4 linked regions of the Homo sapiens genome follow. The protein of the gene in region 1 purifies or fractionates together with the protein of each later gene. This does not show direct contact. Each region holds a gene or a part of one and is shown in the gene's direction. Other genes may lie near its edges. The genes, in order: CIRSR, BTBD1, CCNYL1 and UBR3.

What was found.
Region 2: the proteins of CIRSR (region 1) and BTBD1 purify together in Homo sapiens (affinity purification with mass spectrometry; 2 studies listed by BioGRID and IntAct, with this or other methods). This does not show direct contact.
Region 3: the proteins of CIRSR (region 1) and CCNYL1 purify together in Homo sapiens (affinity purification with mass spectrometry; 2 studies listed by BioGRID and IntAct, with this or other methods). This does not show direct contact.
Region 4: the proteins of CIRSR (region 1) and UBR3 purify together in Homo sapiens (affinity purification with mass spectrometry; 2 studies listed by BioGRID and IntAct, with this or other methods). This does not show direct contact.

Annotation. Positions count from the first base shown.
Region 1 is NC_000002.12:174,346,503-174,351,805, reverse strand, and holds the end of CIRSR (corepressor interacting with RBPJ 1), read left to right. Parts: intron 1-80; coding exon 81-187; intron 188-1,060; coding exon 1,061-1,146; intron 1,147-2,633; coding exon 2,634-3,309; 3' UTR 3,310-3,784; downstream 3,785-5,303. UniProt on the Homo sapiens protein: May modulate splice site selection during alternative splicing of pre-mRNAs. Regulates transcription and acts as corepressor for RBPJ. Recruits RBPJ to the Sin3-histone deacetylase complex (HDAC). Required for RBPJ-mediated repression of transcription.
Region 2 is NC_000015.10:83,028,138-83,037,249, reverse strand, and holds part of BTBD1 (BTB/POZ domain-containing protein 1), read left to right. Parts: intron 1-6,921; coding exon 6,922-7,114; intron 7,115-8,521; exon of another isoform or gene 8,522-8,634; intron 8,635-9,112.
Region 3 is NC_000002.12:207,713,476-207,722,587, forward strand, and holds part of CCNYL1 (cyclin-Y-like protein 1), read left to right. Parts: intron 1-9,112. UniProt on the Homo sapiens protein: Key regulator of Wnt signaling implicated in various biological processes including male fertility, embryonic neurogenesis and cortex development. Activates the cyclin-dependent kinase CDK16, and promotes sperm maturation.
Region 4 is NC_000002.12:170,074,757-170,083,868, forward strand, and holds part of UBR3 (E3 ubiquitin-protein ligase UBR3), read left to right. Parts: intron 1-2,711; exon of another isoform or gene 2,712-2,847; intron 2,848-3,145; exon of another isoform or gene 3,146-3,631; intron 3,632-5,057; coding exon 5,058-5,267; intron 5,268-5,788; coding exon 5,789-5,928; intron 5,929-6,969; coding exon 6,970-7,087; 3' UTR 7,088-9,112. UniProt on the Homo sapiens protein: E3 ubiquitin-protein ligase which is a component of the N-end rule pathway. Does not bind to proteins bearing specific N-terminal residues that are destabilizing according to the N-end rule, leading to their ubiquitination and subsequent degradation.

The DNA of each region.
Region 1 (5,303 bases):
TCAACTGCATTCCTACTGTGGAGTCCGAAAAAGGTAGAGAGATATAAATGATACATTCAAACTGTGATTTTTGTGAACAGGGCCATCGATGCACCCCTCGGAGCTAATAGCGGAGATGAGAAACAGTGGGTTTGCACTGAAACGAAATGTACTGGGGAGAAACTTGACCGCAAATGATCCATCACAGGTAATGATCTTTTTATCAGTAAGCTGAAAATGTCTATAAATCTAAATGTGATTGCTTGTGAATTGCTACTTAATGTTTTCCAATATGCATATATCCATAGGAAAGTAAGATAGAGCAAAGAAAATGCCCAAAATGTGTTTTGATTTTGCTTTATTATTTTAATCTAAATGAGAAATTGTTTATAAACCTGTATTTTAATAAATGAAACTGCTCCTCTGAGTTTATGTGGATAAAATATCTAACTGAACTGGTGATGAGGTTGTTGGTTTTTCCTTCCTGCTAACTTACCCCTGATATGACATTAAATAGAACCAATGGTTAGAAGTATGTAAAAACTCCTAAAAATTGTAGAAAATATTTTAAACTTATTTATTTTATTAAACTATACATAGATCCAGAAAATGATTGAGTTTGAAGGGCTATATTATTATATATTTGATAATGTGCTGTTGAAATTATAATAAAAGCTAAAATTGTGGATATTTTGACATTCCTGTAAAACTCATAATCTTCTTTTTTATATTTCATTAAATTAAAAATAAAGTATTTAAACTGGCAAGAGTTAACATTCAAGAGATAGAGAATGGAAGTCATGCTCTAAACATTTTATCTGTGTGTGTCTATCATCCTTTTCCTGGAAAAGTTTCCTAATGCTGGCAAAGCAGTCATGTTAACCTCTTAGTGCTGTATGATCCACTTCGGCAGGGAGACTACAAAAAAATTTTTTAATTCTCTCCCACTTCCCAATCCAAAATATCATATTCATCTACAGTGTGTCCCTGATACAAAACTTATTTATAAATGTTTTCTTTTTTATCTACTAACTACCTTGTGTTGAAATCTAGCAATTTAATGATATCTTTGTTGACTCAGGAGTATGTTGCAAGTGAGGGTGAAGAAGATCCAGAAGTTGAATTTTTAAAGTCACTAACAACCAAACAAAAACAGAAACTTCTCAGGTAATTTAGAAGTATATATTTAATAGATTTATTTTTTCCTTAGTATTCATCTCAGTATCGTATTCAACTCTGATCCTAAGAGCTCATGAAGGTCCTTATACCATGCATCACATTTATTGATTATTCTTCACCCATAGCTAATACAATTTTGTCTGTCTTTTCAGTAACATGGAAATGAGTGTAAGATTGTATACTCAGATTGTACCACAAAACGATTGCACTTTTCAGAATGTTTAATTTAGAATTAGACTTATTTATAGCTTTTACTTTTCAAAATAGATTTGTGTGTATCTTCGCACACAATTTGTTCTTAGGAAACATTTTTGGCCATTTTTAAAATGTTTTGTAAAATTTTATGAGAATGCAGAAAGAATGCTTAAATTTAAGGTAAACGTGAATTTTGTTAAACAGACTACCTCTGAATTAAAAGAATCCAAGAAATGTCTGCTGGGTCCAATAGAGGGAGCTCATGATGCTTTCAGTATGTAGAGTTTTGAGAATGGCTAGACAGAACCTAGAGACTTATTTTCAGAGTAACTCAAACATACCATATAAACAAGTTACTCCTCCAAGAATGTGAAGTACTCTAGAAATTCAGAATGTTTTAATAGGATTGTCCTATTTATAAAACTAAACAATTGTTGAAAACAAGTATTAACTATATTATTTTATAAAACCAATATTTCAGAAGTTTAATGTGTACTCTTACTCAGAATTTCTGGAGAATATTCTCTTGAATTTTGATAACGTTGATTAATATTTATATACTATAAAATAGTACATAAAATTAATTTTTCATCTGATTATAGCTATATATTTGCTTTTTTAGTAGTTCCAACTGATGTTACACACCTTTCACAGGCTTTCTTTAGGATGACCCTTTAGAGTGCTATATAATTTCAACTCAGTAAGAATTTAACAAAAAAGTAGTCATTACTATTGAAGTATAGTCAGAAAATTGGCTTGATGCATTTAATTTTTTAATTTAATGTATTCACGCTTTGAATAATTTTAAAGGAAGAAAATGAGTTGTCATTTAGTAAACAATGCGTTCATATATGGATACCAGTTCTTTTTTTTTTTTTTTTTTTTTTTAAGACAGAGTCTCACTCTTTTGCCCAAGCTGGAGTGCAGTGGCATGATTTTGACTCACTGCAACCTCCGCCTCCCGGGTTCAAGCGATTCTTCTGCCTCAGCCTCCTGAGTAGCTGGGATTACAGGCAGGTGCCACCATGCCCAGCTAATTTTTGTATTTTTACTAGAGATGGGGTTTCACCATGTTGGTCAGGCTGGTCTCGAACTCCTGACCTTGTGATCCGCCCGCCGTGGCCTCCCAAAGTGCTGGGATTACAGGTATGAGCCAGCGCGCTCTGCCATGGATACTATTTTTAATAACTTCTAAGAAAATATATTGTTTGTTCATAACTTACAGTTGATGAAATAACTGTTTTTCACACAGTCTGTTACTGTTTATTTCCCAATTACAGGAAATTAGATCGACTGGAGAAGAAAAAAAAGAAAAAAGATAGAAAAAAGAAAAAGTTTCAGAAGAGCAGAAGTAAACACAAAAAACATAAGTCCTCTTCTTCCTCATCTTCCTCCTCCTCCTCCTCTTCCTCTACTGAGACTTCAGAAAGCAGTAGTGAGAGTGAGAGTAACAATAAAGAAAAAAAAATACAAAGGAAGAAAAGAAAGAAAAACAAGTGTTCAGGGCATAACAACAGTGATTCTGAAGAGAAGGACAAGTCTAAGAAGAGAAAGCTTCATGAAGAACTTTCTAGCAGTCACCATAACCGGGAAAAAGCCAAGGAAAAGCCCAGGTTCTTAAAACACGAGAGTTCTAGGGAGGACAGCAAATGGAGCCATTCTGATTCTGACAAAAAGTCCAGAACCCATAAACATAGCCCAGAGAAGAGAGGCTCTGAAAGAAAGGAGGGGAGCAGCAGAAGCCACGGCAGGGAGGAAAGGAGCCGGAGAAGCCGGAGCAGAAGTCCTGGTAGTTACAAGCAAAGGGAGACAAGGAAACGGGCACAGCGAAATCCTGGTGAAGAGCAAAGCAGAAGAAATGACAGCAGAAGCCATGGCACAGACTTGTATAGAGGAGAAAAAATGTACAGAGAGCACCCAGGAGGTACACATACTAAAGTGACACAAAGAGAATGAAGCAGAAGTAGAGAAGAAAGACTGTATGTGACAATTACCTGGGAATAAAAATATCTCCACTTTTTTATTGAATACCTTTAGCAAGGGGTAAATTATGTACTGTTGTCTTTCTAATAAAAAAGCTCAATTTTAATTTTTCATCTCTAGACTGTCAATTCAAGTACAAAACTACATGAGTACTATAAGAATGAATTTTGCAAATATTTGTAAGTAAGCTATTTTGGGGCTGTGGAAATATTTTCTGTTGGTAACTGTTTCTTGTTCCCCATACCAGATAAAAACCGCATATAACTCTGTGACATTTTCTTTGTTCTGAAACATCATTAAAAGAATGACAGTACATTGAATGGGTATAATTTACTTTTTTCAATTCAAATTTGTTATTCTAGGATTTGAATTTGCTTGAAGTGAATTGTAATAATTATTCAAATTCATTAGTATAAATTAAGGATTAATAAATCTTTAAGACTTTTAAGCCCCCTTTAGGTGTTTTGTTCTATAGAATAAGCTGTTTACATTTGGATAATATTAGTTTTCTGTGCAGGTATACAAATTACCTCAAACTTAAAACAGTCCAACGGGGCCAGGCACGGTGGCTTTACGCCTGTAATCACAGCACTTTGGGAGGCCCAGGCGGGCGGATCACCTGAGGTCAGGAGTTTCGAGACCAGCCTAGCCAACATGGTGAAACCCCGTGTCTACTAAAAATACAAAAAATTAGCTGGGCATGGTGGCATGCAGTGTAGTTCTAGCTATTCGGGAGGCTGAGGCAGGAGAAACGCTTGAACCTGGGAGGTGGAGGTTGCAGTGAGCCAAGATTACGCCACTGCACTCCAGCATGGGCGACAGAGTGAGACTCCGTCTCAAAAAAAAAAAAAAAAAAAAAAGCCAGGCATGGTGGTGCGCACCTGTAGTCCCAGCTACTCAGGAGGCTGAGGTGGGAGAATTGCTTGAACCCAGGAGCGGAGGTTGCAGTGAGCCAAGATCACGCCACTGCACTCCAGCCTGGGTGACAGAGCAAGACTCCATCTCAAAACAAAACAAAACAAAAAACAGTCCAGCTGTATTAACAGTTCTAGAAGTCAGAAGTTTGACATGGGCTAAAGTCAAGATGTCAATAGAATTGTGTTTCTTCTAGAGGCTCAAGGGGAAAATATGTTTGCTTGCCTGTTCCAGCTTCTAGATGCTGCCTGCATTTCTTGGCTCCTGGCCCCCCCTCCTCTGTTTTCAAAGCTAAGAGAGAGGAGTCAAGTCCTTCTCAAATCTAATCATTCTGACACTTTGCCATTCTGCATCCCTCTTCCAATTTTAAGGACCTTGTGATTACATCAGGCCCACCTGAAGAATCATGCAATAATCTCCCAATTTTAATATCAATGTTAATTCTATCTGCAACTTTAATTCCCCTTTTCTTTGTAATGTAACATATTCACAGGTTCCAGGGGTTAGGATGTGTACATCTATGAGGGACTATTATTCTGCCTTCCACAATTGGCCCTTCTATTACTGGCATACAACTATTAAAGATTTTACTTCATACCTGGTTGATCGTACCAGTGGTCCGTGGCGGGGGGCAGGGGGTAGATTTTCAAATGAAACAATGCAAACTGTTTTGATATTTCACCAGTATAGGTATATAAGGCATATTTAAATTTAGCTGCAAATTTTCCCTTGTGTTTCAAAGGATATGGTAAAGGAAAACTACAGAAAGAACTGGTACAAATCACAAGTAACATGCAGTTCCAAAAAACATAACTTCACATCTTGGACACAAGTTTTTTTATCAGTGTTCTATATTTTTTAACCATCTGCTATTTAATACAAAACAAATACTGATTAGATGGTTTTGATAGTTGGCAGTCACAATTTCATAAATTCTGTAGGAGTAACATTTGAAAGAAGTAAAACCACTCCACATCATCTGATTATGTCTTTGACTTGTCTGTGCACACACACAAAACAAGTGTCCTCTAAGAAAAACTTAAGTGAAGAGG
Region 2 (9,112 bases), on another chromosome or scaffold:
ATTGGCCTATTTATTTTCCTTTACATTATTCATGTCTTTTGTTGTTCTGTTGGTGTGTTCAAATTTTGTTTTACTGGTTTATCTTACATTGATTCTTTGTATATTTATTATTATACCAAATTTTTTTTTCTGACTTATACTTGTTCCAATTTTCTCCAAGATTGTTTTTGTTTTTGCTGATAAGAATCAGTGTTTGGGTTTTTTTTAAATAAACTTTTGAAATTAAAGTTTAACATCCATATAGTAAAATTAACAAATAAAGTGAACATACTTATTTAACCAATTTATCCTACTGTACTAGTACCCCAGAAGCCTTTGTCATGACCCTCTAAGTCACTAATCTCCCTCTGAAAGGTGACTACTTTCTGTCTTCTATAAATTAGTTGTGTCCATATGTAAACTTTATATAAAGGAAATCATATATATGGTGTGTATTCATTTTTGTGTGGCTTCTTTCTCTTAACATTACGCCTGTTAGATTCATCCATGTGGTTGAGTGTGGCAGTAGTTCATTCTTTTTCATTGCTTTATAATATTCTGTTATACAACTGTGCCATGATTTATCCATTTTACTGTTGTTGGATATATGGATTATTTCTGTTTGGGGACCATTGAGGCCATTCTTGTACGTGTGATTTGGTATACATACGTAAACATTTCTGTTGGATATATACGAGTGGAATTGCTAAGTCATGGAGTGTGCATATGGTCGGCTTTAGTAGATCCTGCCATCCTGCCAAACAGTCCCTTAAAGTGGTTGTAACAGTTTACACTCATCAACAAAGTGAAGAGACATAAGAGTTTGTTTTGGTTGCCCACATCCTCTCCAATACTTGGTATTGTCAGTTTTTGTAGTTCTAGCCATTTGTGTGGATGTGAGGACGTATTTCATTTTGGTTTTAAATTTCATATCACGGATGATTAATGATGTTGAATATGCCAATAATTTTTTAATCCAGTCTGACAGACTTTGTCTTTTATCTGAACTGTTTTGGTTCACTTGCACTTAATGTAATTACAGATATATTTGGGTTTATGTTTACCATCTTGCAATTTGTTTTCTACTTGTCACATCTTTTTTTTTTTTTTCCTTTCTTGCTTTCTTTTAGAGGAATCAAGCTATTATTCTTTTTTTTTTTTTTTTTTGGTAATGATACAGTTTTCCCCCTTATTCTGTGAATATAGTGAACTACATTAATTGATTTCCCAATTTAAACCTATTTTGGATTCCTTACGTAAATCAGACTTGGTTGTTATGCATTATCCTTTTTATATATTACTGGATTTAATTTGCTGAATTTTTAATGTATTTTTATGACTACTGAATGAGAGAAATTAGTCTATATATATTTTTTTTTCTTGCAATGAAATTGTCAAAATTGTCCTCATACAAAAGTTAGAAATATTTCCTTTTTTTCCCCCAGTGTTCAAGAGTTTGTATTATTAATTTTCTCCTGGAACCAACTTCTAGCTTTATTAATTTTCTCTATTACAGTATGTTTTCCATTTCATTACTTTCTGCCTTTTTCTTTATTACTTTCTTTCCTTTCTTTGCTTTTAATTTGCTGGGGTTATTTATTTTATTAGTCTTTGTGACTTTTTGAGATACTTAGAAGGTCAACCTATATTCTTTTTGAATGCATATATTTAAGTGTATATTTTTTCTCTCAGCATCCTTCCCCCCCACAGTTTTTAATATGTGTATTTTCATTAGCATTCGATTAAGAATTTTTAATTTTTGCTTTTTTTTTCTTTGACTCATAAATTATAGATAACTTAATTTCCAAATATTTGAGATTTCTTCTTATCTTGCTCTTGCTGATTTCTGTCTTAATTCCAGTATAGTCAGAAAATATATTCTATATCATTTCAATGCTTTGAAATTTGTTGATATCTGCTTTGGCCCAGCATATGGTAGTTTTATTTATTTTTTATTATTTTGTTTTATTTATTTTTGAGACAATGTCTCACTCTGTCACCCAGGCTGGAGTGCAGTGGCATGATCTTGGCTCACTGTAACCTCCGCCTCCTGGGGTCCAACGATTCTCCTGCCTCAGCCTCCCCGGTAGCTGGGATTACAGGCATGCGGTGCCACGCTCGGCTAATTTTTATATTTTTAGTAGAGACAGGGTTTCACCATGTTGGCCAGACTGGTCTCAAACTCCTGACCTCAGGTGATCCACCCATCATGGCCTCCCAAAATGCTAGGATTACAGGCATGAGCCACCGTGCCTGGCCCATACGGTAGTTGTAATAAGTATCCATGTATACTTGAGAAGAATGTATTCTTCTTTGTTATGTGCAGAAAAACCTGAATAGTCCTGTATCTGTTCAACAGATTGAATACTATATCTATGAAAGGAATATATACTAATGATCTTCAAATTTTCTATGTATCTATCTATTGATTTGCTTTTTGTTCTATCAGTTACTAAAAGAAGTAGATTTAAATCTCAGGGTATGATTGAGAATGTGTTTCCTTTTGGTTCCATCAGTTTTCTTCTTTATTTTCTTCTTTATTTTAGGTACCTTCAAATTTAGGATTTTTTTTTATATTGAATTTGCTTCTTTATCTTTACAGTCTATCTCATCTTAAATCTAAACTTATTGTGGGTTTTTGTTTTTTATTTTATTTTTTGAGACAGTCTCCCTCTGTCACCCAGGCCGGAGTTCAGTGGCACAATCTTGGCTCACTGCAACGTCCACCTTCTGGGTTCAGGCAATTCTCATGCCTCAGCCTCCTTAGTAGCTGGGACTACATGTGTGCACCACCACACCCTGCTAAATTTTGTATTTTTAGTAGAGATGGGGTTTTGCCATGTTGGCCAGGCTAGTCTCGAACTCCTGGCCTCAAATGATCAGCTTGCCTCAGTCACCCAACATTCTGGCATGAGCCACCACGCCTGGCCTAAACTTCTTGTTTTAAAGTCTTTGTCTGATATTGGTATAGTTTCTCAAGGTTTTTTAAATTCTATATCTTTCTCATCCTTTTACTTTTAGCCTTACATTATTTTGACCATGTCTCTTGTAAGCTTCATTTTTAAAAAATTCAGTCTGACAGACTTTGCCTTTTATTTGGAATATTTGGTTCACTTTATATTTAATATGATTAATAGTCTATTAAACTTTCTTTTTCTTTTTCTTTTTTTTTTTTTTTTTGGTGTAGACAGTGTCTCCTCTGTCACCCAGGCTGGAATGCAGTGGCATGATCTCAGCTTACTCCAGCGTCAACCTCCTGGGCTCAGGTTATCCTCCCACCTCAGCCTCCCGTATTAAAGATTCTTTTATTATTATTTTAGTGGGTTGCCCTTGTTATTACAAGAATATATCCTTATTGATTTTTAAATTAAATCTTAAAAATTAAATTTTTTAGATGGGGCACAGTGGCTCATGCCTTTAGTCCCAGCACTTTGGGAGGCTGAGGCAGGTAGATTGTTTGAGTCGAGTTCAAGACCAGCCTCGGCAAAATGGCGAAACCCTGTCTTTACAAAAAAAAATTTAAAAATTAGCCTGGAGTGGTGGTACACACCTGTAGTCCCAGCTACCTGGGGGGCTGAGGTGGGGATCACTTGAGCCCAGGAGTTCAAGGCTGCAGTTAGCCGTGATCACACCACTGCACTCCATACCTGGGCAACAGTGAGACCCTGTCTCTAAATAAATAAATAAAATTAAAATTTTTAAATTAAAATTTTCTACACAATATAAAGGCATTATTGATACTTTTGCTATATTTAACCTTCTCTAGCCTTTGGTGCTACTATTTCATGTATTTTAATGTTTCATATGTTATAAAGCCCACAAAACATTATTTTTAAAGTCAATAATCCTTTTGATTTGCCTATATATTTGCCCTTTCAGTTATCTTCATTTTTTTCTGTATGACCAGATGTGTGCTTCTATCTGGGCACATTTCTGTTAGCTTGAAGAATTCTCTTCAATATTTCTTTTAAAACAGGTAGGATACTAACCAGATTCTCTCAACTCTTTTTTTCTTTTGTCTAAAAACATCTTTATCTTACCATTTTTTTTAAAAAAAGAGATGGGGCCCTGCTGTGTTTCCCTGGCTGGAGTGCAGTGGCTATTCACAGCTTCAAAATTCTGGCCTCAAACAATCCTCCCACCCCAGCCTCCTGAGTAGCTGGGACTAGAGGGGCACACTGCTGAGCCCAGCTTGCCTTCATTTTTGAAGGATATTTTTCTGGGTAGAAAGCTCAAGGTTGACAGTTATTCCCATCTATCATTTGAATGCAATTCTATTCTGTTTTTTTTTTTTTTTTTTTGAGACAGAGTAAGACTGTCACCCAGCCTGGAGTGCAGTGGCACAATTTCATCTCAGTGCAACCTCCACCTTCCAGGTTCAAGTGATTCTCCTGCCTCAGCCTCCTTAGTAGCTAGGATCACAGGCACCCACCACCGCCCTTGGCTAAATTTTGTGTTTTTAGTAGAGATGGGGTTTCACCATGTTGGGGAATGGTACCAAACATGTAGGCTTTTATCGCTCACCTCCCTCCTACCATTCCCCCCAAGTCCCCAAAGTTCATTATATCATTCTTAGGCCTTTGCCTCCTCATAGTTTCTTAGCTCCCACTTATAAGTAAGACCATATGGTATTTGGTTTTCCATTCCTGAGTTACTTCACTTAGAATAATGGCCTCCAAGTTCATCCAAGTTGCTGCAAAAGCCTTTGTTTCGTTCCATTTTATGGCTGAGTAGTATTCCATGGTGTATGTATACCACATTTTCTTCATCCAGTTGTTGGTTGATGGGCATTTAGGTTGGCTCCATATTTTTGCAGTTGGTAGTGCTGCTATAAACATGTACGTGCAAGTATCTTTTTCATGTAATGACTTATTTTCCTTTGGGTAGGTATCCAGTGGTGGAATTGCTGGATCAAATGGTAGTTCTAATTTTAGTTCTTTTTTTTTTTTGGAGACAGAGTCTCGCTGTGTTGCCCAGGCTGGAGTGCAGTAGTGCGATCTCGGCTCACTGTAACTTCTGCCTCGCAGGTTCCAGTGATTCTCCTGCCTCAGCCTCCCGAGTAGCTGGGACTACAGGCGCACATCACTGCACCCAACTAATTTTTGTATTTTTGTTAGAGATGGGGTTTCACCATGTTGGTCAGGCTGGTTTCAAACTCCTGACCTTGGGATCTGCCTGCCTCGGCCTCCCAAAGTGCTGGGATTACAGGCATGAGCCACCACCCCCAGTCCTTTTTAGTTCTTTAAGGAATCTCCATACTGTTTTCCTTAGTGGTTGTACTAGTTTACATTCCCACCAGCAGTGTAAAAGAGTTCCCTTTTCACCATATTCACGCCAACATCTATTTTTCTTTTTTTATTTTTTAATTATGGCCATTCTTGCAGGAGTAAGGTGGTACCTTATTGTGGTTTTAATTTGCCTATGTATGATAATCAGTGATGAGCATTTTTTCTTATGTGTATTGGCCGCTTGTATATCTTCTTTTTTTTTTTAATTATACTTTAAGTTCTAGGGTACATGTGCACAACGTGCAGGTTTGTTACATACGTATACGTGTGCCATGTTAGTATGCTACACCCATTAACTTGTCATTTACATTAGGTATATCTCCTAATGCTATCCCTTCCCCCTCCCGCTGCCCCACAGCAGGCCCCGGTATGTGATGTTCCCCTTCCTGTGTCCAAGTGTTCTCACTGTTCAGTTCGCACCTATGAGTGAGAACATGCGGTGTTTGGTATTTTGTCCTTGTGATAGTTTACTGAGAATGATGGTCTCCACCTCCATCCATGTCCCTATAAAGGACACGAACTCATCATTTTTTATGGCTGCATAGTATTCCATGGTGTATATGTACCACATTTTCTTAATCCAGTCTATCATTGATGGACATTTGGGTTGGTTCCAAGTCTGCTGGGCGAAGGATATGAACAGACACTTCTCAAAAGAAGACATTTATGCAGCCAACAGACACATGAAAAAGTGCTCATCATCACTGGCCATCAGCAAAATGCAAATCAAAACCACAATGAGATACCGTCTCACACCAGTTAGAATGGTGATCATTAAAAAGTCAGAAAACAACAGATGCTGGAGAGGATGTGGAGAAATAGGAACACTTTTACACTGTTGGTGGGGCTGTAAACTAGTTCAACCATTGTGGAAGATAGTGTGGCGATTCCTCAAGGATCTAGAACTAGAAATACCATTTGACCCAGCCGTCCCATTACTGAGTATATACCCAAAGGATTATAAATCATGCTGCTATAAAGACACATGCACACGTATGTATAGCTTCCTTTGAGAATTGTCTCTTCATGTCCTTTGCCCACTTTGTGCTGGGATTATTTGTTTTTTTTTTCTTGCTGATTTGAGTTGTAGATTCTGGATATTAGTCCTTTGTTGGATGCATAGTTTGCAAATATTTTCTCCCACTCTGTGGGTTGTCTGTTTGCTCTGCTGATTATTTATTTTGCTATGCAGAAGCTTTTTAGTTTAATTAGGTCTCATTCATTTGTTTTTGTTTTTGTTGCATTTGCTTTTGGGTTCTTAGTCATGAATTCTTTACCTAAGCCAATGTCTTGAAGAGTTTTTTTGATGCTATCTTCTAGAATTTTTATGGTTTCTTAGATTTAAGTCTTTGATCCATCTTGAGTTGATTTTTGTATAAGGTGAGAAAGGAGGATTCCTGGCATCCATGAGGAATAGCATTTATTCCTGGATCTAAGTTTTGACTAATTAATGCTTTTAACATTTTAATTAATGTGTTTAACCTCAAATGGATTTATTGAAACCTTAAAATATATGCAAAAATTATATATGCTAAGATTTTTTTCCCCTATTTTTATGTTACGTCCTCTAGATTTGAATTTACGTTAAGTGAATTCCAAAGTTAGGAATTGAAATCAAATTCCTTTTTTTAGGCTTATGTTTTTATTTCCACAGGTCCTGCTCAATCTGGAATTTTGTCAGATCGTGAAGTGGTAAACCTCTTTCTTCATTTTACTGTCAACCCTAAACCCCGAGTTGAATACATTGACCGACCAAGATGCTGTCTCAGGGGAAAGGAATGCTGCATCAATAGATTCCAGCAAGTAGAAAGCCGCTGGGGTTACAGTGGGACGAGTGATCGAATCAGGTATCTGTTATATTGGGGATGCGGGGGTAGAGTGGGGGTAGCAGTTACCATTTGGCCTTTTTTATATATTATGGGAGATAATTAACCAACATTTCATTTTATACTTCATTTAATACACTTTTAAGTTAAGTTAATATAGGAGTCAAGAAGTCACTGAGGCATCCTGCCCTCCTCACTGATTTATGAGTGAGGGTGACTTCTTAAGAAAAAAATAGAGTAAGAAAGGATTGGGTTGGACCTTCTGTTACGTGATTTTTTTGTTTTTCCCCAAGATGGAGTCGCTCTGTCACTCAGGCTGGAGTGCAGTGGTGGGATCTCTCACACTGCAACCTCCGCCTTCTGGGTTCAAGCGATCCTCCCACCTCAGCCTCCTGAGTAACCTGTAAGGCATGCATCACCACGCCCAGCTAATCTTTTTGGATTTTTAGTAGAGACGGGGTTTCACCATGTTGTCCAGGCTGGTCTCGAACTACTGACCTCAAGTGATCCACCTGCTTCAGCCTTCCAAAGTGCTGGGGTTACAGGGGTGAGCCACCACGCCCAGCTGTTACATGATTTTTGTTTGGATCACCACTGCCAGTGGGCTGAGTTCTAGACCTTAATTGATCAAACGTTATTTTTACAGGCTTAGGGCTACAATTAATAAATGTAACCTTACTATGTTTAGTGTGAGTTTTTTCTTTGCATAGATGTTGCAGGGAAAGTATCTCAGTATACATTTATAAAAGCCTTGAGAAAAAAATCAAGAATCTTGAAAAATGCATGCGTATAATCCTGTTGAAGAAATTGTCTTTGCTGTACTGTGTTTCTTTAGGTTGAATGTCAAAATAGAATCAGTGCCGGTTTTCACAAAACATGACTTTTGGATTTTCATTTATTTAATAGCACTTCAGTATAAAACTGGAAATTAACAAGTTTGTTAAAACAGAAAAATCTGGTTGGATGTGGGACTATTATAAATCTTAAGTTAACATGGAAATTAAAAATGTACTTGTAGACTATTTAATAATAATTCACAATAACTATATGCAAAAATTATGGGATGAGGCCAAAGCTGCACACAAAGAAAAAGTAATAATTAACTACTTGTAGTAAATAGAGTAGAAATAAATGATTTAAGCATTCAGCCCAAGTAGCTAGAAAACAAATAGCAAAAGAACTATAAGAAAAGAGAAAGTAAATAGATAAATGTAGAAATTAATGAATTAGAAATAGTAGAATTCATAAATCCATAAGCTGGTTCCTTTAAAAGACCAATAAAATAAATAAACCTCTGGCAAAGGTAATAAACATTCACATTTAGAAGCAAAAATGGGAATATAATTATATGCTGACATTTTTATTTTAATTCTGGGTTTATTCTGTGCTAATAAATTGAACATGTTGATGGAATGGATCATTTTATAGGCAAATATAAATTATCAAAATTGACTGAAGAAGAAAAGCCTGAATAGACCAATTACCATGGAAGGAATTAAAAGTTATCAAAGAACTGTCCCTTCACAAGGTGGTTTTTACAGGTGAGTTTTGTCAAATCCTCAAGGAACAGTTAGTTTCCTTGAGCATTAAAAGAATAAAGTACTACTTGGTTAATTATTGAAGGAAGCATAACCCTTATATAGGCATCAGACTAGACAAAAAAAATTCTAGATCAATCTCAATATAAAGAAGAAATTTTGTGTAAAACATTAGGATATTGAATCTGTACCTTCGAAGAATAACACTGTATGACCAAACAGAGTTTATTTGGAGATTGAAAGAATGGCTCAGTGTTAGGAAATGTATTAGTATAATTCTCACAACAGATCAAAGAAGAAAAACAATTTAATTTCAATAGATGTCAGAAAGGCTTTTGATAAAATTTCACCTTCCTTCCAGATATAATTCTTACTAGATTAGGCCTAGAAGAATACTTGTTTGACATGATAAACTATTGAAACCTCAAGATAGAGATATCCTTGCTGTTTAAAGCAGTGTTATTATAATTCTGATTGATTA
Region 3 (9,112 bases), about 33 Mb from region 1:
TTAGTTTTTTGCCTTTAGAATTTTGGAAAGAGATAAGTCTAGGTAAAAATAATTCTGGGTAGCAGCGTGATTCTTGAATAAAAACTAATTCTTTTGAAGTAGAAAAACATTGTATCATAAAGATGTTTAAATCCAGTGGGCTCATTTGTTTCGTATAAATGCCAGAGATTTCATTACTATAGAAGAAATGTGTTAGAACTCTTATATTTAAACTTTGCTTGGACTCTTAATTTCTTTAAAATAATAATTAAGCTTCATGATGGACATGCCTTTGTAACTAGGAACTACTTTACTTACCTTTCGGAATATTCAGACATTGTGAAAGAATGAACAAATATATTATGTGAGTTAATTGATTGTACCTTTATACACAAAGCATGTAAGTGCTTGTGAAAACTTAATGCTCTCTTAGTGGTGTCAGGTAAGCCTCTGAGTGATTTTACACACCAGTTAGTAGATGGGTGGGTGGTGTTGGGTGAGAGCCCCAAATAAGGCTCCCACCCAGTGTACATGAAAATACATACTTTCATGTACATGTAATTTAGCCCTTCCAAAATAAGGCCTGTTTATATTCCCCGTGTTGCTAATGAAGAAATAAAGAGTTAGGTATGTAGAATGACTATGTAAGACAGCCACTGAGCAGAACTAAGGTTCTCAGTTCTCAGACTGACATGGAGGTGAGATATACCAAGTTCAGTTCTTAAAAAACTTTTAAAAATCCAGAATGCATCATGTATTTTACCCATAAAATAGTCCTGTTTTTGAGAACTTACTTCGGTCTTGATTAGTTCCTTTCAAAGTTTATTTTACACGATTCAGAGGCAACACTTACATCTCTTTTTTTTTTTTTTTTTTTTTTTTTTAAGAGAAAGAGTCTCACTGTGTTGACCAGGCTGGCCTCGAACTCCTGGCCTGGGCTCAAGCAGTCCTCCCACCTCAGCCTCCTGAATAGCTGGGACCACGGGCGTGTGCCATCTTGCCTGGCTCCATCTTATGTCTATACATTCATTTCAGTGGATAAGAATAAAAGTAGAGGTAACAAAATGGCCTAAATATACCCATCAAATAAACAGGTTGATAAATTTTAAAGAGTTTGTTCTGGTAACTGTGAATTGAAGCTGAGAATGCACTGGACAGAGGAATATTAGAAGCTGGCAAGAGGGAAGGTAAGGTACCAGGCATTAAGCATGGGATGATGATAAAGAGTGCTAAATCAGAAAAGTTGGAAAAAGAGAATTTGTAAGCACAGAATTTACCATTGTATGTTAGTATGACAGTTACATTTTTATTTCAATTTGTCTCAAAATTTATTTTTGTGGCATTCAATAAAGTGATAATAGAAATCTCCATTTCGGCATTTGCCTATTATTCATAAGTTTCCATAGAAACATGGCCAGAACACCAAATATAAAGTATAGACACATTGAAAGTTTGCTTTTAATATCTTTATTTCAGACAATTTTATATCAGTCTCCCTGGAAACAGAAATTCTTACTGAGATGTAAAACATTTGGCTGGGCATGGTGGCTCACGCCTGTAATCCCAGCACTTCGGGAGGCTGAGGTGGGCGGATCACGAGGTCAGGAGTTCGAGAGCAGCCTGGCCAACATGGTGAAACCCCGTCTCTACTAAAAATACAAAAATTAGCTGGGTGTGGTGGCGGGCATCTGTAATCCCAGCTACTCAGGAGGCTAAGGCAGGAGAATCACTTGAACCCAGGAGGCAGAGGTTGCAGTGAGCTGAGATCGTGCCACTGCACTCTAGCCTGGACAGTGGAGCAAGACTCTGTCTCAAAACAAACAAACAAACAAAAAATTTAGCTTTTCTACAATGAAGAATTATTTTTGTTACTTAGACAAAAATCATACATAAATGACGCTCGGCTTTGTTCTTCAAGCTATTTCTTTTTTTTTTTTTTTTTTTTTTGACAGAGCTTCACTCTTGCCTAGGCTGGAGTGCAATGGCACAAACTTGGTTCAGTGCAACCTCTTCCTCCCGTGTTCAAGTGATTCTCCTGCCTCAGCCTCCCAAGTAGTTGGGATTACAGGCATATGCCACCATGCCCAGCTAATTTTTGTATTTTTAGTAGAGACAGGGTTTCAGTATGTTGGCCAGGCTGGTCTCGAACTCCTGACCTCAAGCGATCCAGCTGCCTTGGCCTCCCAAAGTGCTGGGATCATAGGTGTGAGCCACCGCGCCTGGCCTTTTTTTTTTTTTTGAGATGGAGTTTCGCTCTTGTTGCTCAGGCTGGAGTGGAATGGCGCGATCTCGGCTCACTGTAACCTCTGCGCCCAGAGTTCAAGCAGTTCTCCTGCTTCAGCCTCCTGAGTAGCTGGGATTACAGGTGTGTGCCACCACGCCCAGCTAATTTTTTGTGTTTTTAGTAGAGATGGTTTCACCATGTTGGCCAGGCTGGTCTGGAACTCCTGACCTCAGGTGATCCACCTGTCTCAACCTCCCAAAGTGCTGGGATTACAGGTGTGAGCCACCACGCCTGGTCTCGTCAAGCTAAGAGATGCTCCTAAGAACCTAGTAAACATTTCAGATAGACTCAAAGTATTTTCTACTACCTTGCCTTTATTTAACGGTATGTCTAACATAACTGACGGTAGTATCAGTAACACAAAATAAGATACTAAGATCTTATTGTCCGATTTTATTAGTACTCTTGACTTTTCATGGAGCATTTTATGTTCTGACGTTAGGAGCTTTGCTAATTTGCTGGCTAAAGGCGCTCTCTGAAGTGACTCTTTCTATTCTTTTCCACTGATGGGTGAAGGTAGGGAAAGAATTGGCAATGTAATGTGGAAAAACCTCTGAGCAACAGATCTTTCCTCTTTCCAGTAGCTATTTTAAGCCCTCTCTTTTTTTTTTTTTTTTGCTTTTTTGAATAATATGTTTGATGTAAAAGACATAGAGAATACAGAAAAGTCATTGATTATGGTATGCATATGAATATAACATTTTATTTTAGAAAAATGAGATCATTCTATATGAGCTGCTTCATAACTTACAGCAGTGAAATAATGTCATAAATTCCTGAATCACTGCTTGACATCCAGAGAGTGCTCCAAGATATCTTTCCATGCCAGGACACCCTGCTCTATCGCATGCCTTCTAGTAACTGCTTAATGTACCATCAGATGGTTGGAGTATCATTTATTTACCTATCCTTTATGATTGGGCATCTTTTCTAGTAACATCATACACAGTCTCATTACATTTGATTTCAAGGGTACCGATAAAAACATATTTTGATGACTGATGCCTTGTACCTCCCTGTAGAATTCAGTTAAATCTATGGGTTGAGTCATTTTGTAGTTAAGATATTTTAGTATTAAATGTTCTTATGGGCCAGGTGTGGTGGCTCACGCCTGTAATCCCAGCACTTTGGGAGGCCGAGGCGGGTGGATCACGAGGTCAGGAGATCGAGACCATCCTGGCTAACACGGTGAAACCCCGTCTCTACGAAAAATACAAAAAATTAGCCGGGCGTGGTGGCGGGCGCCTGTAGTCCCAGCTACTCGGGAGGCTGAGGCAGGAGAATGGTGTGAACCCAGGAGGCAGAGATTGCAGTGAGCCGAGATCACGCCACTGCACTCCAGCCTGGGTGACGGAGCGAGACTCCATCTCAAAAAAAAAAAAAAAAAAAGTTCTTATGTCAAATTGGAGTTAGCATTGACTTTTCCCTGGACTTTAGAATTCATCATTTAATATTTTTTGTTTCTTGGTAGCCTATCTTGCATCTTTAATTCTGAATAGCTACCACTTTAAAAGATTTGATGCTTACCACTTTAAAAGATTTGATTAGATGACAAATCAAGAGAGAATGTTAGAAGAAATATTAAAAGATGTGGGAAAACTGGGAGAAACTTGACTAGTTTTGGGTGTGCTGAAACAGATGTTTATTGAGTACCTTTAGGTGGCCAGGCTGTGTTCCAGATTTAGGGCAGACAGTGGTATACAAGACAGAACCTCATCCTAACTCTGATCCTTACATTCTGGAGGGAGCTAGGGATAGATAATACATGAATAATCAAGAATGTTAGGTGGTGAGGTGCTAGGGAGAAAAGTAAAATAGGGTCATGGATTGGGGAGGAGGACAGTTACATGGGGGTTGTGGGGATGAAAGATGGCTGCTCTCCTTACGTGACCTGTGAGCAGTCCTAAAGTGAGAAGGGAGCCTTGTGAGGATGGTTGGTGAGAGCCAGGGGTCCACACAGACAGTTACTTTGGAGTTCCTTGAATGGGAGCAAACTTGTTTTTGGCCAAGGACAGAAAGACACAGGGTGGCTGCGGAAGAGTGAAAAGGATGCCAGGACTATGGTGGGTTAAGGCCATGTGTGTATAGTGGGCCTTGGCAAAGAATATAGACTTTAGTTGTGATAGGAAACCATTGGAGGATTATAGCCTGGGAAATATTTTTAATTCTTTTTTTTTTTTTTTGAGATGGAATCTTCACTGTGTCGCCCAGGTTGAAGTACAGTGGCTCAATCTTGGCTCACTGCAACCTCCGCCTCCTGGGTTCAAGCGATTCTCCTGCCTCAGCCTCCCGAGTAGCTGGGGCTACAAGCACGTGCCACCACACCCGGCTCATTTTTTGTATTTTTAATAGAGATGGGGTTTCTCCGTGTTAGCCAGGATGGTCTCGATCTCCCAACCTCGTGATCCACCCACCCTGGCCTCCCAAGGTGCTGGGATTACAGGTGTGAGCCACCATGCCCGGCCAATATTTTTAATTGTTTAAGAAAAAGATCAGACGGTGGCTCATGCCTATAATCCCAGCAGTTTGGGAAGCAGAGGCAGGAGGATTGCTTGAGCCCAGGAGTGGGCTGGGACTAGCCTGGACAACGTGCTGAGACCCTGCCTCTACAAAAAGTAAATTAGCCAGGTGTGGTGGCACACACCCATAGTCCCAGCTACTCAAGAAGCTGAGGCAGGAGAATCTCCTGAGCCCAGGAAGTCAAGGCTGCATTGAGCTGTGATTGCTCCACTGCCCTCCAGCCTGGGTGACAGTGAGACTGTCTCAAAAAAAAAAAAAGATCAGACTAGCTGTAAAAGTAGGTAGCAAAGTGATGAATAGACAAGTCACAGAAAAATAAATGCAGATGATCCTTAAACACAGCTTCACACTTAAGAGAAATACAAACGAAAACTGTGCTGTGATTTCTCTTCTGTTGGGAGAAGATCCAAAAACTTGACAATACATTCTTTGGTGTGGCTGCGAAGAGTTGCATTCGTGTATTGCTGGTTAAAATGTAAGGTGGTTTGACTCCCTGAAGAGGAATTTGGCATAATCTCAAACATTGCAAATGCATTTAATCCAGAAATCCTACTTCAAGGAATTTATCCTGAAGGCATACCCCATAAATATGAAATAACATGTGCATAAGGTTTTGTTGCATTATTTTCAATAGCTAAATATTGGAAATAATATGTCTAGTAAGAAATTGGTAAAATAAACTGTTATATCCACACAGAGGAGAATTATGGAGCTGTTAAAAAAAAAAAAAACTCTCTTTACTGCTATGGAGTGATACCCAGATATCCAGGATATGTTACATGAAAAAAAACAAGGAGGAGAATGTACAGTAATGTATGAAATAATATGTATTTGCTTATTTAAAACAACAACACTGAAAGGAATTCTTGGTGGTGGTGTGTGACTGTTTTTCCCTTAATTTCAGAGGTAGCCAAAGTGCATATTTGCTGAAGATGTTATTTTGGTATGGGCTTTCCAATAAATGCTAACTGTTCACTTTTGCTTTTAATTTGTGAAAACTTTGTTTTATAATTTATTGTGCATTATGTGGTATATAGCAATTGCTTTTTTTTTTTTTTTTGAGATGGAGTCTAGTTCTGTTGCCCAGGCTGGAGTACAGTGGCACGAGCTCAGCTCACTGCAACCTCCACCTCCTGGGTTCCAGCAGTTCTAATGCCTCAGCCTCCTGAGTAGCTGGGACTACAGGCATGTGCCACCACGCCCAGCTAATTTTTATATTTTTAGTAGAGAAGGGGTTTCGCCATCTTGGCCAGGCTGGTCTTGAATTCCTGACCTCAGGTGATCTGCCCACCTCAGCCTCCCAAAATGCTGGGATTACAGGTGTGAGCTACTGCGCCCGGCTTATAGCAATTGCTCTTGCATTTCATTTTATTCTCACTATATTTTGAGTTAGGTAGTATAAGAATTATACTTGTTTTACATATGAGAAGACAGGCTTTGAGAGGTGTAAATTGAGTTTGCCAAGGTTTTTTAATTTGTTTTTTGTTTTTGAGATGGTCTTTCTCTGTTGCCGAGGCTGGAGTGCAGTGGTGTGATCATAGCTCACTGCAGCCTCCACTTCCTGGGCTCAAGTGATCCTCTTGCCTCAGCCTCCCAAGTAGCTGGGACTAAGAGTTTTCCAAGGTTTAAAAAGATAAGACTTGGTATGGTCAGGTGTGGTGGTGGCTCATGCCTGTACTACAGCACTTTGGGAGGCTGAGGTGGGTGGATCACGAGGTCAGGAGATGGAGACCATCCTGGCCAACATGGTGAAACCCCATCTCTAATAAAAATACAAAAATTAGTTGGGTGTGGTGGCACATGCCTGTAGTCCCAGCTGCCTGGGAGGCTGAAGCAGAAAAATCGCTTCAACTCAGGAGGCAGAGGTTGCAGTGAGCCGAGATCATGCCACTGCACTCCAGCCTGGGTGGTAGAGTGAGACTCCGTCTCAAAAAAAAAAAAAAAAAAAAAAGGCTTGGTAGATCAAGAATGTAAATTTCAGATATATGGCATATAGGATTAGAATTTATAGAATGACTCATGGGCTTCTTTGGATACTGCCTTTTTTCCACCTTTTTTTCAGTTAATTAAGCTTTAGAGTTAAAATAATAACATTGGATAATGAAAAATGAAATGGAGGTACTTGTAACCCAGACTTTTTTTTTTTTTTTCTTTTCTCTGTATGAGACAGGGTCACAACTCTGCCTGTCGCCCAGGCTGGAGCACAGTAGTGCCATTAGAGCTCACTGTAACCTCAAATCCCTGGGCTCAAGTTATCCTGCCACTTCAGCCTCCCAAATAGCTGGAACTACAGGCATGTGCCTCCACACCCAACTAATCTTTTAAAAAATTTTTGTAGAGATGGGGGTCTCACTATGTTATGTTGCCCAGGCTGGTCTTGAACTGTTCTCAAGTGATCCTTCTGCCTCAGCCTCCCAGAGTGCTGGGATTACAGGTGTGAGTCACTGCACTCCACCCAGAAATACTCTTAAAAGTCTAAAAAAGGAGTTAAGTGCTATTAAGAAATACACAAAGGGAGAAAGGTATACTATAGCATATGAAATGTCACAGCTCAGTCACGATCACTAAAACATAGATTGAGGCGTGAAGGTAAGTTAAAGCAAGACTGAACACTGACATAGAAGGAGGTAGAGCAGTGTTTCGGAAACCAGATTTAGGATTGTCAGAAGCTAGGAAAGCAAAAGCAAGGCATGAGTGAGCATGAGACTGGAGCTTGGCTGGTACTGTGTGACCTCAGATGAGGCAGGGCAGCTCAAGACCCATCAGGTAAGACTTACCTGATGGGTGGAACGTGTGAACTTAGATAAAATCTCAGCGTTTACATCATAGTTGAGAGGTTTGAAATGTTTGTGTTATGGACCGTAAGACTAATACAGTGTGCAGTATGGTAGAGCAGGTCAGTAAATGCAGTAAGCCTTTAAATAAACAGATGCCCAGCAGTTGGCCCAGAAACTGCCAATGTCTCCTGTTTAATTGGGATATATTGAAATCAATATGTTGAACTCAATCTCTTTCTCTGAAATATGCTGCTTCTGTCAGTTACTTTCTTGGTTGCTGCCCTCTCCCTTTAATATTTTGACAAGAAAAATAATTTCTTTACAGTTTACAATTGCATAATTTTAACACTTTTAGCCTTTAGTAATAATGCATTTCATTTATTCTAAGTTCCATATTTTTACATTTTTAATTAACATCTGTGAAATTGAGATGGCTGATAGATTCAAGGAGAAGCAGTGTTCAATGTCAGTGGATCTTACAGATTTCTTCCCCTGAGGGGGGTGTTTATATTAAGACCTGAGTTTAATTTTTTTTTGTCTTACTTGCCCCCCATCATACTATCATGCTTTCGAATTAAGTTGCAATTTAAATTGATAATACAAAACTGGTGGGTCTTAAAATACAATTTTATACATAACCCCTAACCATGATATCAAAAACTATTTCTTCTAGTTTCAAACATTCTTAGGAGTTTTTTGTTTTTTTTTTTTTTGTTTTGAGACAGAGTCTTGCTCTGTTGCCAGGCTGGAGTGCAGTGGCGCCATCTCGGCTCACTGCAACCTCTGCCTCCTGAGCTCAAGCAATTCTCCTGCCTCAGCCTCGGTGGCAGCTCCTGGCTGGCTAGCAGTGCTAGAGTACAGCCCTGCCTTTCTCCTTTGGTTCTTGGGAAGTCCCAAGAGAAATGTAATTGATTGGCCAGCTGTAAGTCACATGCCCACCCTAAAACCCCTGAGTTGAGGGAGTGCCAGCTTGTTACTTGGGCTTATTTGGCTTTTTTCTCTATATCTTATCATTTCTGTTATCCTAGTTGCCTTGGATTTTTTTTTTTTTTTTTGAGATGTAGTCTTGCTCTGTTGACCAGGCTGGGGGGCAGTGGTGTGATCTTGGTTCACTGCAACCTCTGCCTCCTGGGTTCAAGCGATTCTTCTGCTTCAGCCTCCCGAGTAGCTGGGACTAGAGGTGCACGCCATCACGCCTGGCTGATTTTTTTGTATTTTTAGTAGAGATGGGGTTTCACTGGGTTGGTCAGGCTGGTCTCGAACTCCTGACCTCATGATCTGCCAGCCTCAGCCTCCCAAAGTATTGGGATTACAGGCATGAGCCACCATGCCCAGCCGCCTTGGATATTTCTTATATTTACACAGTAGCACATCTTGGTTTTCTTATATTTAAATACATAGTAGCACATCTTGATTTGGGGCGGGGGAGGTGTGTGTGTGAAGCCTGCTCCTCTTTGATTTTGGTACTTAATTTTCCTGGACTTCATTGAAAATTCCTAATTAAACTTTATCATGACATAGGTACTGATTCATAATATGGCTTCTTCTGTAA
Region 4 (9,112 bases), 4.3 Mb from region 1:
GTTGTTCTATAAGGCTGTACTTTTGTGACTTTCTCTAACAGTTGCCATGTTCATTACATTTGTTTCTTTAATGTATCTGAATGGGGGCTCCACGAAGCAGAAATTGTTCCTTATTTATCCCCGGTTTCTAGAAAGTGCCTCATATATACTAGTCACCTAATAAATATTTGTAGAACAATTAAGTTGTGGGGTGGTGTCTTTGGCAGAAATAGAACGTATTAAAGGGGAGCCAAGTTTCAGGGAAAGTGAGAATTTTAATTTTGAACATCAAAGGGACAATAAAAAATTAATATTTCAGATGAATGTGTCAGACTAGGTTTCATTTTTAAAACATTGGAGTGAATAATAAAAGATAAGCATAAGTTATAAATGTCTCTGCTTTTGTTCTTTTCCATTTTTTGCTGAAATCCTTAAAAAGATGCTATCTCATTTTATACCCTTTTTTTAAAAAAAAAGGGAAATTCAAGTTAATTGAATCTTGCATATTACATATACAAATATCTTCCTGTCTAGTAATTTCTTTATTCACAGAGCATATAGCAATAATTTGACATCATACTTTGATGTCTGAAAACCTATGCAGGATGACATGGAGTAAGAGGGGTATAATTGTAGAACCAAGGCAGGGAAAAAAGTGATGAGCACACCCAGAGTTTGTCTTCATATGAGCCATAGGTTAAAATCAAGCCTACATTTTAGATGAATGATTATTGTATGTATGCTGATGGAAAATAAGAATTTTTCATTTTAAAATATTTAATCTTTTCATATAATTAGGTGATAATTATTGTAGAGGCAGTGTAGTAGACATTTGATTAATTTATTAATTTATGCTAATGCAGAATTTTTGCCAGTTATGTAAGTACACCACCATTTGACCTGTATTCCCCCTTGTGTCCCTGCTCCACTCTTGTGTTCCTAACCCTGATCCTGACCCTAGGTCAACCAGATTCTCTTTCTCAGGAATGTTAAATCTGTATAGCGAGACTTAGCAGGGTAAATGGTGACAGGAGCTGTATAGTCCAACAGTACTACCCTTGAAAAACTGTCTGTGAATTACTACTTCTGAATTTTTTTATCAGTTAAGATTCTTTGTTTGGGAACAACAAAATCCAGTTCTGATTTAAAATAAGGAAAACCAAAGCAAACTATGACAGAAAAAAAAAAAAAAACAGGATTCATTGGAAGCATACTTGGTAACCTGCAGAATTGAAGAGCTTAACTGTCATCGCTTGGGAAGAAGAGAAACCACAAATATCTCTGCTCTGTTTTCTCTGAAGTGCTGCCACCAGATAACTAAGCCTCAACCATTTTCCTTCCTTTAATTTGCATGCTCAAGGTTCAGATTCCTGGGAGAGAGAATCTGGTTGGCCTAACTGTTGTAATACATATACCCCAGTGGTGGGGCAGGATCTTGTGTTGGGGACAGCCCCATCAGAACTGTACGGAGCAAGAAAAGGGGTTATTTTCTAAAAGAACTTATAATGTTATTAATATAAGAAAGCAGCAAAGGATGCTAGGAGGATTTAAAAAACAAACTAGTGGCCCACTACTTTCACATCTTACCTGCCTGGCTCATACACACCCTTCTTCTCATTCACAGTTTCACTTCTGCTGTTGAAAATGATGTAACCATTTTACTTATGACTGCAAATGCATCTGTGACTTTCCCAAATAAGCAACCTGATGTCACATATAGTCCTTACATCATCAGGCCTCTCTGCATCCAGTAGCTCTGAGAGATGTCCATTGTTCCTGTCATTTGTACTCACACCCAGATGGCCTGGAAAATTTTAATTAGTACCTGCTCACCCTGAATTCAATAGTAAGAGAATGAAAATGTTGCAAAGATATATGATACAGTAAGCAAGATTTGCAAGTAGTCATAAAGCTGCAGCTAATATACAGTCAAATATATATGACTTTCTTCTTTTACCATCCGTGATCCAGCACACCTCAACGGATGATTGGATTTGTTTGAGCAAGGATGTGATACCAAACTTTATTCTGAAAGGGCTGAGCTTCTGGTGATTGGTCCTGTCTTTGTTTCTATAAGGCTGTAATCATTCTGTGTTAAATTTCTGCCTTTCAAGCTTGGTCTATGGTAGGGGTGGTGGTAGGGGTTTTTAAGTTCCAAAATATTGCTCTACCAATTGTATGGCAATATTTTTATTCTTCTTGATAGTCATGGTCAATCCCTCCAGGCAATGCGATAAGCCACCCTTGTGATGTTATAAACCGTACTAGAGGTTAGACAGTACATAGCTTGTAAATCCGCAGAAGAGTCCGGAATAGCAGTGAAGCAGAAATTTAAGACCGAATTTTTTTTTCCATTTTAATGTTTACAATTTAATAAATCTCTTGATTGCAGACATGTAAGGCTGTTTGGTAGTATTCAGAAACATCACAGTAATGGCAGTTTTTTCAGTTGGTGTGTAGTCTTCAATAAATATCTATGAAAGTGCTGTCAGACCAGTAAGACTGCATTTATACATCCATCATTTTCAGGATTGTTGGTAACCACAGCCTATTTTCCCCAAATAACCTTGCCTCCTTGTGTCACAAGGCCCAACTCACATTCACCTCAGTAACAGTACCTTTGGTAATAACATCCAAAGTTATATACATTGGGAATGAGGGACTCTTCTTTACACCAAGTATTGTTAGGCAAAAGGTGGCTTTCAGTTCAGGATGTGTTACATGGGCTTTCTTGAAACGCAAGCCCATTGGCCTGATGAATCTTCCATAGATAAGTAGTTTTCTTGTAAAGCCATCTCCAACAAAGCAGACTTTAGTAACCATCCTCCTCTATGCCTGCGTCTTTCTCTTTCCTGTTGGAATAACTTTGAGACAGAGTCTCACTCTGTTGCCCAGGCTTGAGTGCAGTAGAGCGATCTTGGCTTACTGCAACCTCAGCCTCCTGGGTTCAAGTGATTTTCCTGCCTCAGCCTCCTGAGTAGCTGGGATTACAGGCGCCTGCCACTATGCCCAGCTAATTTTTGTATTTTTAGTAAAGACAGGGTTTCACCATGTTGCCCAGGCTGGTCTTGAACTCCTGACCTCAAATGATCTGCCTACCTTGGCCTCCCAAAGTTCTGGGATTACAGGCATGAGCCACTGCACCTGGCTCTGTTCAAATAACTCTTAACACTTCTGTATCTCCCTGGGCAAGTTACATTTAGACAGAGGGACTTTCCATTTTCCTGCTTTCTCTTTTCATTTCGGCTTAATCATACTGGGAAGTACGTTAGCTTGAGGTTGTCCCTCTCTGTCCAGCAGATAGGCAGGTACTGCTCCCTGTGGAGTCTTTCTTTTGTCTGGTGTTTCTCTTTTCATGCATCTTGATGGTCTTTTTCATTTGTATTTTCTCAGCATGGTGCTGTTTAAGATAAAGCTTAGCCTTCAGACCAATCATTTTCTTTGACTTCTTTGAATGTTCATAAGCCTCTCAACTTTCCTTCTTTCCCTTTTTCTCATGGTAATCCAAATGATATCCATGGCATTTACAGTGTAATTCAATATATTTGATCTGTGGCATGGCACAGGCGCAGCCCCTGGGGTGCGAAAATGCTCTCAATTTTTGGGTCTCAGAGACCCACGAGTGAACTCCACACAGGCCGCAACAGGAAAGGCAAGACCGAATTTTAGGTGTAATCATGAGAGGTGTTACAGCTGTTAAATACTTTCCACCTCTTGTTTCCCATACATATGCATTCCAATTGTGAAAAAGGTCACCCATATATACTGGTTGCTGTTTAGAGCATACACATTCTGTAGGTGATTTCTTCCAGCTGGTGCCATCTAAAAGTTTGTAAATTTCATGAATTTCATAATTTTTGTGGCACTGAAAAAATCAGTTTTGTAGTTCATGATTTAAAATACCACAGCTTTTTTCAGATGATTGAATATATGTTAAGATCAGTGAATTCCATGGACATCCACCTGTTGCCTTACATCTCTCTTCATGAGGGAAATTATTGGAGGTAATGTGCTATGGGCTACTGGATAACATGCAGCCTAACCTATAATAAGTGTCAAGTTCAGTGAGGACAAATTGTTATCCCTTCCCTTTAATGGAAGGGTTCCACTGTAATCAACTCATTACAGAATGCCATCCTTGGAGTCCAGGGTTGGGTGCTGAGTATTGGCAAATGATGTATTGTATACTGTTCTTATCATTGCTTCCATGGACACTTAATCCATGAACTTGTTGATGAGGAACAAGCTAGCTTAGTTACTCCACTGATTTAGGTGGATTATGGCTGCATGTAGGTAATGTGAGATGATCTCCATTTAAATTGACTATTACTTACAGTTTCTTAAGATAATAGACTCACTCTACATTTTATCTTTTTTAAGTGTGAATGGAGTAGCATCTAGAAAAATTTAGTGCTGCTGCCAGTATTTTTATACAGCTGCAAATAGTTAATAAAGCATACCCTTCAGGGAAATTTAACTAATTTGACAATTTTTTTATTCTTATAGCAAGACATTTATGAAAAGAATTGTAGCCCAGCACTTATGGATATAAAAGATCTTAACAGCTTGAGGTGCAATGAATTGTACATACTCTAGGAAAGCAATTCTACATTATAAAGTATTAAAGTAGAAAAAATGAGTTATAACCATGATCTGTCCTAAAGAAAAAGCTAAAGAATTGTTTGAGAATGATCAAAACTTGGTTTTAAAAAATACGTAACTTTTAAAAACCTTTGCACTATGCATGTTTAAAGTCAAATACAATTAGATGTATTTTCCCTGCATGCTTAGAGATGGTGTTTTTCTTTTAAAGTAATAACAAGTTTAAATGTTTTAAGGTGCTTAATCTAAAAAATTAAATCATACTGTAATTGGAAACTATAATACATTAGATAATGGTAACTGTTGAACTACTATTTTAGTCATGTATAAGATGGAAATGAGAGGAGTGTTAATAAAGAAAATAAGCCACATTCTTGGAGGCAGATTTTTCTTTCTGTAAAAATACATTTAAAAAATATATTGTGTTAGTGACTTAAATACATAAAACTAATGAATATTTTTGGATAATGTTTTAGGCCTTGCTTATCCAAGAGTCAAAATGGAAATTACCACACCTACTACAGTTGCCTGAGAATTATAACACCATTTTTCAGTACTACCACAGAAAAACCTGTAGTGTCTGCACCAAGGTTCCTAAAGATCCTGCTGTTTGCCTTGTGTGTGGTACTTTTGTATGCCTGAAAGGACTTTGCTGCAAGCAACAAAGTTACTGTGAATGTGTACTGGTAAGCAATAGTAGATAATACAAAATTTATGAAAACACAGATCTCATATCACAAAATATGGTCAAGCCATCTCTTCATATTAACTACTCTTTGAATTAAGTATATAATACATATAGGGATTGTGTGTGTTTTTTAATCCAGTAGAAGAGTAAAAAAAGAAAGTCTTTGAGGCTTTAAGTGAGTAAATCCTTCCTTAAGTACAATTCTAGTTCTCCTTTCATCTACTATCCCTTTAATGGTATGTACTTTGGAATGTGCTGTGAAACAGAAGTCATCTGTGCTGTTGAAGATACTAGACTCTGAATTAGGTTGGCTCTTAATTGCTTTACTAGATATTCCTTACCCAAATACCTCCTAATGTATTAATAATAAAGTGTTAGGAATGGAGTTATAAGTTTAACTTAAATGAAATCTTACTATTTTTAAATCACTGTATTATTTAGAAGGCATTAATATATTCTTGATTTTATTATAAAGCCTATTTGATTATGAAGTTCATTAATATATTTTTAATTTTTTAGCACTCTCAGAACTGTGGTGCAGGAACAGGTATTTTCCTTTTGATCAATGCATCGGTAATTATCATCATTCGAGGTCACCGCTTCTGCCTCTGGGGTTCCGTGTATTTGGATGCTCATGGAGAGGAAGACCGGGATCTTAGGTTAGATGTTCATGGATATATCCAGGTGTTTTATTGAAATTTGGTCAGTGAAAACCAATATGCTATTCCTGGCTTTGTAATTACAATTTTTTTAATATTAAGAAATTCTGACAGTCATTAATTTAGAGCTATTTCTAGTTTTTGAGCTATTGTCCCTATCAATACGTTGAGGAAACATGAAATACACCAAATTACCATGTGAGGTTTTTGCCACAAAGAATCCGTTGGCCAGGCCCAGTGGCTCACACCTGTAATCTCAGCACTTTGGGAGGCTGAAGCAGGATTGCTTGAGCCCAGGAGTTTGAGACCAGCCTGGACAACATAGTGAGACCTCATCTCTACAAAAAAATAAAAATAAATAAGCCAGGTGTGGTGGTCATACACCTGTGGTCCCAGCAACTCGGGAGGAGGTGGAAGGATCGCTTGAGCCCAGCAGGTGGCGGCTGCAGTGAGCTGTGATCGTGCCACTGCACACCAACCTGGGCAACAGAGAAAGACTGTCTCAAAAAAGAATCTAGTAAAAAAAGAAATGTGGTAGGTGTGGTGGCTCACGCCTGTAATCCCAGCACTTTGGGAGGCCGAGGTGGGTGGATCACTTGAGGTCAGGAGTTCGAGACCAGGCTGGCCAATATGGTGAAACCCCGTCTCTACTAAAAATACAAAAAATTAGCCGGGTGTGGTGGCGGGCCCCTATAGTCCCAGCTACTCTAGAGGCTGAGGCAGGAGAATGGCATGAACTCGGGAGGCGGAGCTTGCAGTGAGCCAAGATCGTGCCACTGCACTCCAGCCTGGGTGACAGAGTGGGACTCCGTCTCAAAAAAGAAATAAGTAAATAAAAAATAAAAAAATAAAAAAAGGAGGCAGGCATGGTGGTGAGCACCTGTAATCCCAGCTACTCGAGAGGCTGAGACAGGAGAATTGCTTGAACCCAGGAGGCGGAGGTTGCACTGCGAGAGACTGTCTCAGAAAAAAAAGAAGAAAGAAATGCATGTGAAATCTTCCGTGTATGATATTAATACTTTTTTTTTCTTTTTGTTCTAGGCGAGGCAAACCTCTCTACATTTGTAAGGAAAGATACAAAGTTCTTGAGCAACAGTGGATTTCTCATACTTTTGATCACATCAATAAAAGATGGGGTCCACATTACAATGGGCTGTGACTCTCCACCTCAGCATTGCATCGTATCATCATTTTCGCTACGAATTTATTTTTCAACAATAAGCTTTAACTTAATTTGGGGGATTAACACTTTTGCTGAGGGAGAAAAAGAAAACATACATTATGAAGCCTTTCCAAAATTAGGTGCTTGGTAATCACGTTAATGGTATAATTTTTTTTTTTTAATATCTGGAGAACATTAATAACAAGTTAAATTATTCTTTAGTGGTCATTTTTTAAGTGCACAATTAATAAGAAGCACAACTTGTTCACAAACTCATTCAGAAATGATTCTCCCAACAATGCGTATCAGCTATTCATTGATACTTAGAGTGGGTGTGATTTATTTGACATTTTACTGCTTCTTTCTGTCTGTGTGTTTTAATTTGCATCTGCCAAGCATAATGCATCTTTTTTCCTCTGCCATTCTTGTGTTGATTGGAGAATTTTTCTGTATGTAATTAGAAAAAAATGTAAAACATGATTTATGTGAAATACTGTATAGTAAAAGTTGGTCTAATAGTAGAACTTTAAAATTTTTTCTTATTGTGAGGAATCTGTTAAAAGTTTAAAGCTTTGCTGAAAACTGAATTCATTCTCAGGAATTTCATAAATCTTCTCCCCAGGTAAATAATTGAAATAGCTGTAAAATAAGTAGATAGCTGCTGTTAATATAATACAGTACATTTTGGGGGGCATATGTGTGGTTGGGGGGTCCTTAAAAATCAAAATTTGCCATTTCAGTTGGATGAATTACTAGAGGTAATAACAAATCTTACTATGAAATCAAGAGGTTTAAGAACATACACTGGGCAGATGTTGATTCCGTGCATGCCCACCTTTTATTACCAAACAAGGTTTTGTTTATATGATTGTATTAGAAATGCTCAGACTTCCCCAGAAATGAACCATAAATTTTGGAACTTCCTTTCAGCTCAAGAGGTTCAGCTATATTGTATTTGTGCAGTGTAATCACTACTATTTCTGCTCGGTTTCCTAAAAGGAAAAAAAAGGCGCAGTGGTGATGACCCTCATGAATGAGCCACGCTTCTGCATTCTTCTTAGAAACTGCTGTGAAAAACAATTTATGTTTGCAGGGTTTAAAAATCAGTAAAAATGGGAATGATTGAGCTAAAACCCACTCTATGAGAAGGAAGATTACTGAAAAGCATGTGACATATTGCTACAAAGATTTTTTTTCCTAAATGATTCAGTAATTGAATGATTATTTAATATATAGTGCTATCAAGCAATCCCTGGTACTTTGGACTTCCATGGCTTGTTATATAAAATTACATTTTTACATGTAAAAATAAACTAAACAAATCTAATGATAAAATATGTCAGATCCATGTTCTAAAAAATTTTTGTAATGACATGACATTACAAGAGTATAAAAATGGACATTAAATCATGGCCTTGCATTAAAATATGGAAAGCAGAGCAGTACATATTCAAATGTATTCAGAAAGTCAAAAGATTACCTATCGTTCTACAATAAAATACATGGAAATAGCTTGCTATTTTTATATACATTTCCAAAATATTAAGATAACTTTCTGTAAGAGTCAATGATTCTGTTCGACTAAATAGCTGTCCTTTCCAACACATTGCTACTTTTTTAAATACTGTATCATAAGTTCAGCCTGTCATACTTTTTGCATTGATCGTTATGAATACCAGACCATTTGTAAGTGTGGTTGAAGAGCAAAATGCTAATTGACATCTCTAGTAAATACTGTTACAGGATTCATGAACTTGAATAATTCTACAGTTTGAAACTCTGATGCTATATATACATGGTATAATGTATTCAGACTTTGATTACTACTTATTTAAAATGGAATGTTTTATGGTTGTGCATATGGATGTGAAGTGAAAATATTAGCCTTAACTTTAAAATTTGGGTGTTTGATAGTGTTTATTTTGATATTGGTGAATTAGTCACCAGTAAATTTTAAAAAAGCACTTGGTTGAAAATTGTACTTGAATACATACATGCATGCTGCTAAACTAGAACTTTAAT